Linked DNA regions of Homo sapiens: region 2 is linked to region 1. Evidence: fine-mapped expression QTL. A gene starts in region 1. The other region holds a variant in brackets. All regions are shown on one strand. Distances are from middle to middle. Region 1 holds the start of KLHL21 (kelch like family member 21). Region 2 has its middle 28 kb from the start of CAMTA1-DT.

Evidence for each region. PIP is the estimated chance that this variant, and not a neighbour inherited with it, causes the effect.
Region 2: its variant is the best candidate, but not a certain one, in a credible set for the expression of KLHL21 in whole blood (TOPMed, PIP 0.65).

What each region holds. Positions count from the first base shown.
Region 1 is chr1:6,600,249-6,605,616 of GRCh38, reverse strand. It overlaps KLHL21 (kelch like family member 21), which reads left to right and starts at 2,748. Exons shown (of 4, transcript NM_014851.4): 1 at 2,748-3,820. The coding sequence starts at 2,800. It overlaps LOC107984913 (a long non-coding RNA gene), which reads left to right. Exons shown (of 2, transcript XR_001737882.3): 2 at 970-2,170. RefSeq lists silencers at 1,030-1,378, 2,343-2,732, 3,333-3,492, 3,673-3,752 and enhancers at 1,793-1,942, 1,983-2,142, 2,163-2,252, 4,013-4,062, 4,093-4,232.
Region 2 is chr1:6,754,658-6,760,025 of GRCh38, reverse strand. No RefSeq gene overlaps it. Among named protein-coding and RNA genes, the nearest start is that of CAMTA1-DT, 28 kb to the left of the region's middle. The variant G/T (reference allele first, on the strand shown) is at 3,056.

The DNA of each region.
Region 1 (5,368 bases):
TCGCCCAGGCTGGAGTGCAGTAGCGTGATCTCAGCTCATTGTAACCTCCTCCTCCCGGGTTCAAGCTTGAAGTGTTTGAACCTGGAGGCAGAGGTTGCAGTGAGCTCAGATCGTGCCAGTGCACTACAGAGTGAGACTCCGTCTCAAAAAACAAACAACATGTCATCTAGGTGGTTATGTTCATTTTGTTTTTGCTTGCCTGCATTCTCTTTCTGTACTACACGTACATTATCTGTTAATGTTAATTTAAGTTCAAAGTAAAATTAAGAATTCATATCTTGAGAAAAGAAGTATTTCATTGATAACCGGGGCCTACCAGGCATGTGAAACCATGTATATATATAGATAATTCAACAAAGGAATGTGGTGAGAAAAGAAAGGAACCGATTTAGACCTATCAGCTGTGTTAGGAATTTTGAATAACCTACTAACCCAGGCATGCTATTTAGCTCTTTCTTTTTTTCAGGGGTGGGGCAGGCAGAGTGGGAGCAGTGGAACAATGACAGCTCACTGTCATCTGGGCTTATGTGATCTTCCCACTTCAGCCTCCCAAGTAGCTGAGACTAAAGGTGCATGCCACCACGCCTGGCCAATTTGAAAACTTTTTGTTGAGACAAAATATTGGGTCCCACTATGTTGCCCAGGCTGGTCTCAAACTCCTGGCCTCAAGAAATCTTGCCCCAGCCTCAGCCTCCGCGTAGCTGGGATTACAGGCGTGCGCCACAGCACCCAGCTAATTATAATTGTTTTATTTTTAGTAGAGACAGGGTTTCGCCATATTGGCCAGGCTGGTCTCGAACTCGCTACCTCAGGTGATCCACCCACCTCGGCCTCCCAAAGTGCTGGGATTACAGGCGTGAGCCACGGCGCCTGGCCGAAAATGTTAACTTAATAAATTTTTTTAGGCATATGAATACATATAAATCAATTTGGGTCATACAATGAGTAATCTGATTTTTCGCTTTATAGCTCAAACATCTTTCCATTTCAATAAATACATCATTATTCTTCAAGGCTACATAGTAAGACTGAAATATGATGTTTAAAAATCCCTGTTATTGGGAATACAGAAAAACCGTACTCAATCCTCAACTATGGAAACATTATTGATTTAATCACTGGACTTACGCAAGATGGGTAAGCTGACCCAGGGGACGGGAGTTCTTTTCCCTACAAACATTCCACTTCCTGGCTACTCAGCCTTTCTTGTCACAAAGCCTGTGCAAGGAAGCTATTGGCCCTGCTCCTGGGCCCAGGAATGCTGCCGCTGCCTTGAATAGCTGTGTGAACAGTCCTTCTATGGGCAACAGGCGGCCCGCCTGGGTACCTGAATGTTTTCTGATTTGGGCCTGTGCTGCCCATGCTCACCCTGAAATTCAGACCAGATGCATTCTTATGGCAAAATGACGTGAAACTCTTAAGTAGAAGAGAAAGCCTGCGGTTCTCATTTCAGAGGTGGAATAAAAACAAAATGTCTTCTGGAAACGCTACGCGGCCCTAGACCTCGCTGGAACCAGGAAATGATAGCCAGCTCCCATGCGCGTGGCCTGCTCTGGGACCCACGTGGGCGGGCGCCTTCCTCAGGAATGCGTTCTCAAAGGCCCACCGGTGTAGGGGGGCTGGAAAACAGCACAAACCCAAGTGTTCTCTGCAAAGCAGCAGTCCTGGTGGTGAAATAGGGGTCTTTTCTAAAACTGAGCAAAGCCTACCTTCCACTGAGGAAAAAATGGCCTCCAAGGGAGGGCTCTTTTTCCCCTACAAGTGACATTCAAAGTGGTGCTGTGTCTATCGGAACTAAAATAAGGGCGATTCCTTCTTTCACCATTCCCCACCGCAGTACAAGTGACGGCGGGACTGTGCTTAGTGGCGTCATCTAGTTTCAAGGCGGTCTCCTATCTGACTTTGAGCCCTCGCTCTTTATACCCAGTTACCCTCTCGTGGAGTCCGAGCAGCTGCTTCAGGGAGGCCCGGGAGCCCCTAGGGCGGGCAGCCCCGGAGCCTGCAGCTGCGACGCAGACTCGGAAACTACAACTGCGCGTGAAGCCGACTAAAGTTAACGCCTGTGTGATTGAGTCAGAAGCTCCTTCAGGAACACAGGAGTGGGGCCGACTCCTGGAATCCGGCCCCGGGTCGCTTATAAATGCGCCAAGAAAAAAACGTCACCGAAAAACTTTATACGCGTTCTTGCTTTGGTCCAGAATGGTAAAAAGCCTATCCTTTGAGTGTGTCCCGTGATGGGGTTAACTAGCAACCCTTGAAACTAGTGGAACTCAAAAGCAAAACAAAAAGCCATTGTACCCAGCCGCCCCGGGACCTGGGCCGGCGCCCTTGGGAAGTCTGGCGTGAAAGGAGGGGTGGCTTTGGTTTCAGGGCCGAGCTCGCCTCTCCCGGGTTGGGTTCAGCAGCCGGGCCGGGTGGGTCGTGGGCAACCCCGGGAGGCCCCCGGTCCCGGCGCGCGGCGAGGCCGCCCTCGGACCTGGCACTTGTCACTCGCTGTCCCCGGCCCGGGCGTCAGCGGGGAGACGCAGAAGGGCGGAGGGAGGGAGCCGGCCGCGGACAGCGGTGACTCAGCCTGCGGAGCCGGGGGCGGGCGCCGCGCGGGGGACAGGCGAGCCCGCGCTCGCGGGGGGCGGTGGCGCCCGGCACAGAGGGGTTAAGGGGGCGGTGCAGACGTCTCCCCGCCCATCCCGCCCCTCGAGAGCCGCGGCGCCCCGCCCTATTTATAGCAGCGGTGCCTAGCGCGCCGCGTCTCTCCGCAGGCCCCGGCCGCGGCGTCCTCGACAACCTATCGAAGGCGCCATGGAGCGACCGGCGCCCCTGGCCGTGCTTCCCTTCTCGGACCCCGCGCACGCCCTGAGCCTGCTGCGCGGCCTGAGCCAGCTGCGCGCCGAGCGCAAGTTCCTGGACGTGACCCTGGAGGCGGCGGGCGGGCGCGACTTCCCGGCGCACCGTGCGGTGCTGGCCGCCGCCAGCCCCTACTTCCGCGCCATGTTCGCGGGGCAGCTGCGCGAGAGCCGCGCCGAGCGGGTGCGCCTGCACGGAGTGCCTCCCGACATGCTGCAGCTGCTGCTGGACTTCAGCTACACGGGCCGCGTGGCGGTAAGCGGCGACAACGCTGAGCCGCTGCTGCGCGCCGCCGACCTGCTGCAGTTCCCGGCCGTGAAGGAGGCGTGCGGGGCCTTCCTGCAGCAGCAGCTCGACCTGGCCAACTGCCTGGACATGCAGGACTTCGCTGAGGCCTTCAGCTGCTCGGGACTGGCGAGCGCGGCGCAGCGGTTCATTCTGCGCCACGTGGGCGAGCTGGGCGCCGAGCAGCTGGAGCGGCTGCCACTGGCGCGCCTGCTGCGCTACCTGCGGGACGACGGGCTGTGTGTGCCCAAGGAGGAGGCCGCCTACCAGCTGGCGCTGCGCTGGGTCCGCGCTGACCCGCCGCGCCGCGCCGCGCACTGGCCGCAGCTGCTGGAGGCCGTGCGCCTGCCCTTCGTGCGCCGCTTCTACCTGTTGGCGCACGTCGAGGCCGAGCCGCTGGTGGCGCGCTGCCCACCCTGCCTGCGCCTGCTGCGCGAGGCGCGCGACTTCCAGGCGGCGCGCTACGACCGCCACGACCGCGGGCCCTGTCCCCGAATGCGTCCTCGCCCGTCCACCGGTCTCGCCGAGATCCTCGTGCTCGTGGGCGGCTGCGACCAGGACTGTGACGAGCTGGTCACTGTCGACTGCTACAACCCGCAGACGGGTCAGTGGCGCTACCTGGCCGAGTTCCCAGACCACCTGGGCGGAGGCTACAGCATCGTGGCGCTGGGCAATGACATCTACGTGACGGGTGAGTGGGCCAGGGGCTGGGCAGGCTCTCTGGGGTTGAACCTCGCCGGTACGGGAGCCCAGCTATTCGCGGGGGAAGCGCACAGAGCCTGGAATCCTAGGGGCGCACCTGAGTCCAAGCTGGGGCTCTGGTGACTACATGTCTCTGGGCGATACTTTTAACCTTGAAGAAGGGCCCCTTGTGTGAGCCGGGACAAGTAGCTGCTTGTGGGTCTCTGTGCCCCGTGCGGCCGGGGCTGCCAGGCTGAGCCAACTCCGTGCCCAGGAGGTGCCTCCCCACTTGGTTGGAAGATACTGGGGCATTCACCCCGCACAATGGGTGCTTTCTTTTTCTCCTTAAGGAATCCAGGGACGGGCAGGAGGCCGACGCCCGGTGAGGCATCTGTTCCCCACAAGCCGGGGAATTTCTCCCTCCCTGCTGAGCCACACCGGGCCCCCTGACTCACTCTTTGTCACCCGGTGACAAGGTTCCCTTGGGCTTGCACCTAGGCTCTGTGCTCTGGTCACATGGTGTTTAGGCTGAACTCCCCGGAGCCTGTAAACATGGTCACATGTTAAGAGGTTTTCTTCCAGTTACTTGGCCCAAACCCCAAAACACTGCCGAGTCATGGTAGGCGGGTCCCAGTCCGCCTGAGTTTGGGCTTCTACGGTTTTTATTAAAGATAAATCCCAGTTCAAACACGAGGCTACCTCCTTTGTCGGGGTGAGGAAGGGCGGTCTCTGTGACTGCTATATAAGGAAAGAACCCACCAGGCAGGCGTGTGAGGCGGTTATCAGGCAAGGAGGTGGGGACTGGGATGTCACAGCTGCTGTGCCCAGCCTTGCATGTTCGCGAGAGAGCCCACTCTGGGACGTGCTCCGAGTTCCAGTGGGGCTCTGAGGTGTCAGGTGGGACAGTTGCTGGATTCTGTTGCCACAGCTTCCTTAGCCTGCTGCTCTGAGTCCAGCCTCTGCTGGGTTCTGCCAGAATCTGTGCCTCTTTCCAATCCAAGGTTGTCCCCAAGTTGATTGGGGACCGTGTCCCTCCCCTCTTCTGAAAGTCTGACCAGTGGCTTTGAGCAGATAATTTCTTCCCAGAACTGGCCACACTGGCCCCAGCTTTCTGCACACCCTTCCATAAATGTCCCAGCAGAGCAGTTAATCCCTTGGGTTTAGGCAGGTGGCTGGTTCATTCCTTTCAGCTGCCTTTCACACAGCTCCATGGAAGGGAGGAGGCCGGCAGAGCTCACTTCCTAAGAACAAGAACTTGCTTTTCTCCCTTTAGAGCTCAGGGCTGTGAAACAGAATGTCTTGTCCGCTCTGTCCTGTGGCGCCAGCCTGGGAGGCCAAGGGGTACAGCCCCCAGGATGCTTGGGGTCCCTTCATGTCCTGGGGTTTCTAATAGACCTGGTGTAATTTACGATTACAGCCAGTACCACTTTTTATTCTTAGCTTTTTATTGAAATTGAAAATACGGGCCGGGTGCAGTGGCTCTTTGTAATCCCAGCACTTTGGGATATCAAGGTGGGTGGATCACTTCAGCTCAGGAGTTCGAGACCAGCCTGGACAA
Region 2 (5,368 bases), 150 kb before region 1:
CAAGCAATTCTCCTGCTTCAGCCTCCCAAGTAGCTGGGATTACAGACGCCCACCATCACACCTGGCTAATTTTTGTGTTTTTGGTAGAGACAGGGTTTCACCATGTTGGCCAGGCTGGTCTCGAACTCCTGACCTCAGGTAATCCGCCCACCTCAGCCTCCCAAAGTTCTGAGATTACAGGCTGAGCCACCACGCCCAGCCTGTTCTTGCAATTTGAAGGAAAATGGCAATGGCCAGGAATTTCCTATGAGCAATGGGTGCTGAGTTAGCATTAACTTAGTATATCATATTTTATTTATGTTTTAGATACAAGGTCTCACTCTGTAGTCCAGGTTGGAATGCAATGAAACAATCATGGCTCACTGTAGCCTCGACCTCCTGGGCTCAGGTGATCCTCCCACCTCAGCCTCCCAAGTAGCTGAGATCACAGGCACGCGCCACCATGCCCAGCTAATTTTTTTTTTTTTTTTTTTTGAGACGGAGTCTCGCTCTGTTGCCCAGGCTGGAGTGCAGTGGTGCAATCTCGGCTCACTGCAAGCTCCACCTCCTGGGTTCACGCCATTCTCCTGCCTCAGCCTCCTGAGTAGCTGGGACTACAGGCGCCCGCCACCACGCCCGGCTAATTTTTTGTATTTTTAGTAGAGACGGGGTTTCACCGTGTTAGCCAGGATGGTCTCGATCTCCTGACCTCGTGATCCGCCTGCCTCGACCTCCCAAAGTGCTGGGATTGCAGGCGTGAGCCACCGTGCCCGGCCTTAATTTTTAAATTATTTGTAGAGACTCCAGGTCTCCTTGTATTGTCCAGGCTGGTCTCAAACTCCTGGGCTCAGGCGATCCTCCCACCTCAGCCTCTCAAGTAGCTAGGACTACAGGACTGCACCACCTGGATAATTTTTAAATTTTTTGGTGGATACAGGGTCTCCCTATGTTGTCCAGGCTGGTCTGGAACTCCTGACCACAAGCAATCCTCCCACACTGGTCTCTTAAAGTGCTGAGATAGTTGTAAGCCACCATGCCTGGCAGCAGATAATATTTTCTTACAGGCCTGATGAGACACGTCACCTGACTGTTTTCCAATTTCCAATGCCAGAAATCCTGGATGGGAAAGAGGAGCCACTTGCCCCAGTGAACATGCAGAGGCTGTGGCGAGAGCAGGGAGAGAATTCCCTCATTTTCTGTACTACTCCCCTGAGGCCCCTTTCTCTGGGTGAAAATGCCCCCCTGAGTTGCAATGACAGGCCCTGGGAAGGGGAAGAGAATTCCTCTGTGGGAACTCTCTGTCTTCTAGGGATAAACCGAGTCTGCTGCTGGACACAGGGAGGGGAGGGGAGGCTCGAATGTAAAGAGAAAAGACACTGTGGGCCGGAAGCGGTGGCTCAAGCCTGTAATCCCAGCACTTTGGGAGGCCGAGGCGGGAGGATTGCCTGAGCTCAGGAGTCTGCTACCAGCCTGGGCAACACGGTGAAACCCCGTCTCTACTAAAATACAAAAAAATTGGCCAGACGGGGCGGCGTGCGCCTGTAGTCCCAGCTACTCGGGAGGCTGAGGCAGGAGAATGGCGTGAACCCGGAAGGCGGAGCTTGCAGTGAGCCGAGATCGCGCCACTGCACTCCAGCCTGGCGACAGAGCCAGACTCCGTCTCAAAAAAAGAAAAAAGAAAAAAAAAGAAACGAGACTGTGCCCACATGGAGGCGCAATGACGGCGAGCCTAAGGTGGGAATACTCAGCTCTACACCACTCTCCCTGCACCTAGCACGTCCCCAGCAGCAGGCTTGGTGGGCACCCAAGGCCAGAGCCAGGACTGGGGGAGGCAAGCCAGGAAGCCAGGAAGCCAGGTACAGCGTCTCCAGAGGTTTCCACTCGAGGGTGCCCACCCTGCGTGTGCACAGCAGGAGAGTGAGCACCCCCTTACAGTCTGCACTGGAAGCACCTCGCTTGCCTCCCCTCATCCAAGCCTCCCCAAAGACACAATTAAACGCTACAGAGGATTATTTAACAAGATCTGGGATCCTCAGAGCCGTAAGGATGATGACGGGCTGAAGCCAGTATCGAGCCTAATTCTTCCAACCATTGCATAGTCAGCAGTAAACTATGCAAGAGGGAAAAGGAAATAGGCGAGGGAATTAGAGTTTGTTTCCAAATTCCTATTTGGCCGTCAGTATCATGGTATCAGCAGAAACTCCTTGGCTTCCTTCGTTCTTGTTTCCAGCCTTACTTTCCAATTTGGGAACATCCTAAGGAAGGCGCTGGACGAATGGCCGGGGCTAGGCTCTCTCTGGTCCTGCCACTGCCAATGGTACACGGTGGCGTTGGGCAAGTCGTGGCTTCTACGAGCTTTGTTTTCCTTATATAAAAATGTACATAAGGCCGGGTGCGGTGGCTCACGCCTGTAATCCTAGCACTTTGGGAGGCCAAGGCAGGCAGATCATGAGGTCAGGAGTTCGAGACCAGCCTGACCAACATGGTGAAACCCCATCTCTACTAAAAAAAAAAAGAAAGAAAAAATTACCTGTGCGTGGTGATGCGTGCCTGTAATCCCAGCTACTCAGGAGGTTGAGGCAGGAGAATCGCTTGAACCTGGGAGGTGGAGGTTGCAATGAGCCAAGATTGCACCACTGCACTGCAGCCTGGGCAAGAGAGCAAAACTCCATGTCAAAAAAAAAAAAAAAAAAAAGAAGAAGTCAGAACTCAAGGGGACTTGGCCCTGATGAGGAGTTTGGGTTTTATTATAAATGTAGCAGAAATCCATTTGTAGAAATTTTCAGCAGAGAACTCATATGATCTAAGCTTTTTGAGAGCCAGGACTGTGTTTCTTTTTCTTTTGTTTCTTTCTTTCTTTTTTATTTATTTATTTTTTTTGTTTGTTGAGATAGGCTCTTCCTCTGTTGCCCAGGCTGGAGTACAGTAGCATGATCTGGTTCACTGCAGTCTCAACCTCCCGGGCTCAAACAATCCTCCCACCTCAGCCTTCTGAGAAGCTGTGATTACAGGTGTGTGCCACATGCTCAGCTAATTAAAAAAAAAAATCTTGGTAGAGATGAGGTCTATCTATATT[G/T]CCCAAGATGGTCCTGAACTCCTGGGCTCAAGCAACCTTCCTGCCTCAGCTGCCCAAAGTGCTGGGATTGTAGGTGTGAGCCACCGTGCCCAGCCAGGACTCTCTTTCTTAATGTTTTCCAACCATTTATTGAACTGAATTGAATTTCACTCACTCTTCCAAGAATTAGCTGTCTGACCTTGGCCAAATCCCTTCACAGACAACTGTCCCACAGGGTCTTCTTTGCACTTAGTAGGCATTAGCCCAGTGTTTGTTGGATGGAGACCTGCAGCTGCCTCACTGTCATAGGAAGTGAGAGGATGACTCCACCCAGCTCCACCATTTGCATGAGTCTGTGACCTCAGACTGCTGAAATGATCATAGAGTTATCCATGCTTCTCCAAATGCTTGGTTCCAGGTGCCTTATTACAGCCCATTTGTCTCCAGAATGACCCAAACCCCTCCCTGGACCCTCGGCCACAAAGGGGAAATTAATAGTAACATAAAAAGTTAAGCAGGTGAGAGAACATTATCACTCTTGTCAACAATAAAATCTGCTGCTGATCTTCAGTTGTGAGGACAGGCACATCTATTATTTATAGAATACAGATTGTTAAATATTAAATACTTGAGCCTGGGATAGTGTGAAGGTAAAACCAGGAGTGTGAACTTGTCAAAATCGTAAAAATGGTAACTCTTTGCAAAGGTGAAGTGCACCTACATTTATTACTGCTTTTATTGCACTATAAATTAAGGGGGGGAGCCCATGATGTGTCAATTTCAAGTTCTTTTTTTTTTTTTTTTTTGGGACGGAGTCTCGCTCTGTCACCCAGGCTGGAGTGCAATGGCACGATCTAGGCTCACTGCAACCTCCACCTCCCAGGTTCAAGCAATTCTCCTGTCTCAGCCTCCCGAGTAGCTGGCACTACAGGCGCACGCCAACATGTCCGGCTAATTTTTGTATTTTTAGTAGAGACGGGGTTTCACCATATTGGTCAGGTTGGTCTCAAACTCCTGACATCAGGTGATCCACCCTCCTCGTTCTCCCAAAGTGCTGGGATTACAGGCGTGAGCCACCACACCCGGCTGTCAATTTCAAGTTCTAGGTGATAAGCATTATCGTTGGGATGGCATCTGTCTGTACCTAGCTCTGCTTTACAAACAGCTCCTAGCCGACTTGCCTAGAACTATGAACTATTTCATCTGGGAAGGTGGTAAGAGAGAGGATTTCTTCCTTATTTACCACGTGACAGAATGGCAGGCAAGTCAAACATTTGATGAACTGGTAATTTTTCTTGTAGTTACTTGCACATATGTCCAAAGGTTTGTGTTGATGAAGGCAAAAATACTTCTTAAAGATATTAAAAGTCCAGGCTGGGTTCAGTGGCTCACACCTGTAATCCTAGCACTTTGGGAGGCCGAGGTGGGTGGATCACCTGAGGTCAGGAGTTCAACACCATTCCGGCAACATAGCAAAACCCTCATCTCTGCTAAAAATACAAAAATTAGCGGGTGTGGCTGCGCATACCTGTAATCCCAGCTATCTGGGAGGCTGAGGCAGGAGAATGGCTTGAACCTAGGAGGCAGAGGTTGTAGTGAGCCAAGATCAAGCCTGGGCAACAGAGTGAGACTTTGTCTCCAAAACACAAAAAAAAAAACCTTGAAAGTTGCCAAACATCTTAATTTTTGTTTTTTTTTTTTTTGAGATTGGGTTTTGCTCTTGTTGCCCAGGCTGCTGGAGTGCAGTGGTGCGATCTTGGCTCACTGCAACCTCCACATCCCAGGTTCAAGCAATTCTCCTGCCCCAGCCTCCCGAGTAGCTGGGATTACAGGCACACACCACCCTGACTGGCGAATTTTTTGTATTTTTAGTAGAGACGGGGTTTCACCATGTTGGCCAGGCTGGTCTCGAACTCCTGACCTTGTGATCCACCCGCCTCAGCCTCCCAAAGTGCTGGGATTACAGGCGTGAGCCACCGCGCCTGGCCTCATCTTAATTTTTATATGATTTTGACATCCCTCAATTTACCCTAATTTATTTCTGCCCTGAATTTTTCATGCAAATTTAGAACTTAACCCACCACCATTTGCTTCATGACATGAAGTGAGATACCGTGAGATTTTTCAGTCTGCCCCTAAGGACTCATAGATGTAAGAACTTGATTTCTTGATTTACTGCTCATAATAAAATGATTTTTTCCCTTTTCTTACAAAGAAGATTTGCACATCCAATTTGTTTTTCCTTTTTAAAAAATGTGTTGAATTAAGCCAAAATCTTTCCAACGAAGCACCTGATTCAAACACAAATTCTGTCCCCTGGAATATGCAGCCTCA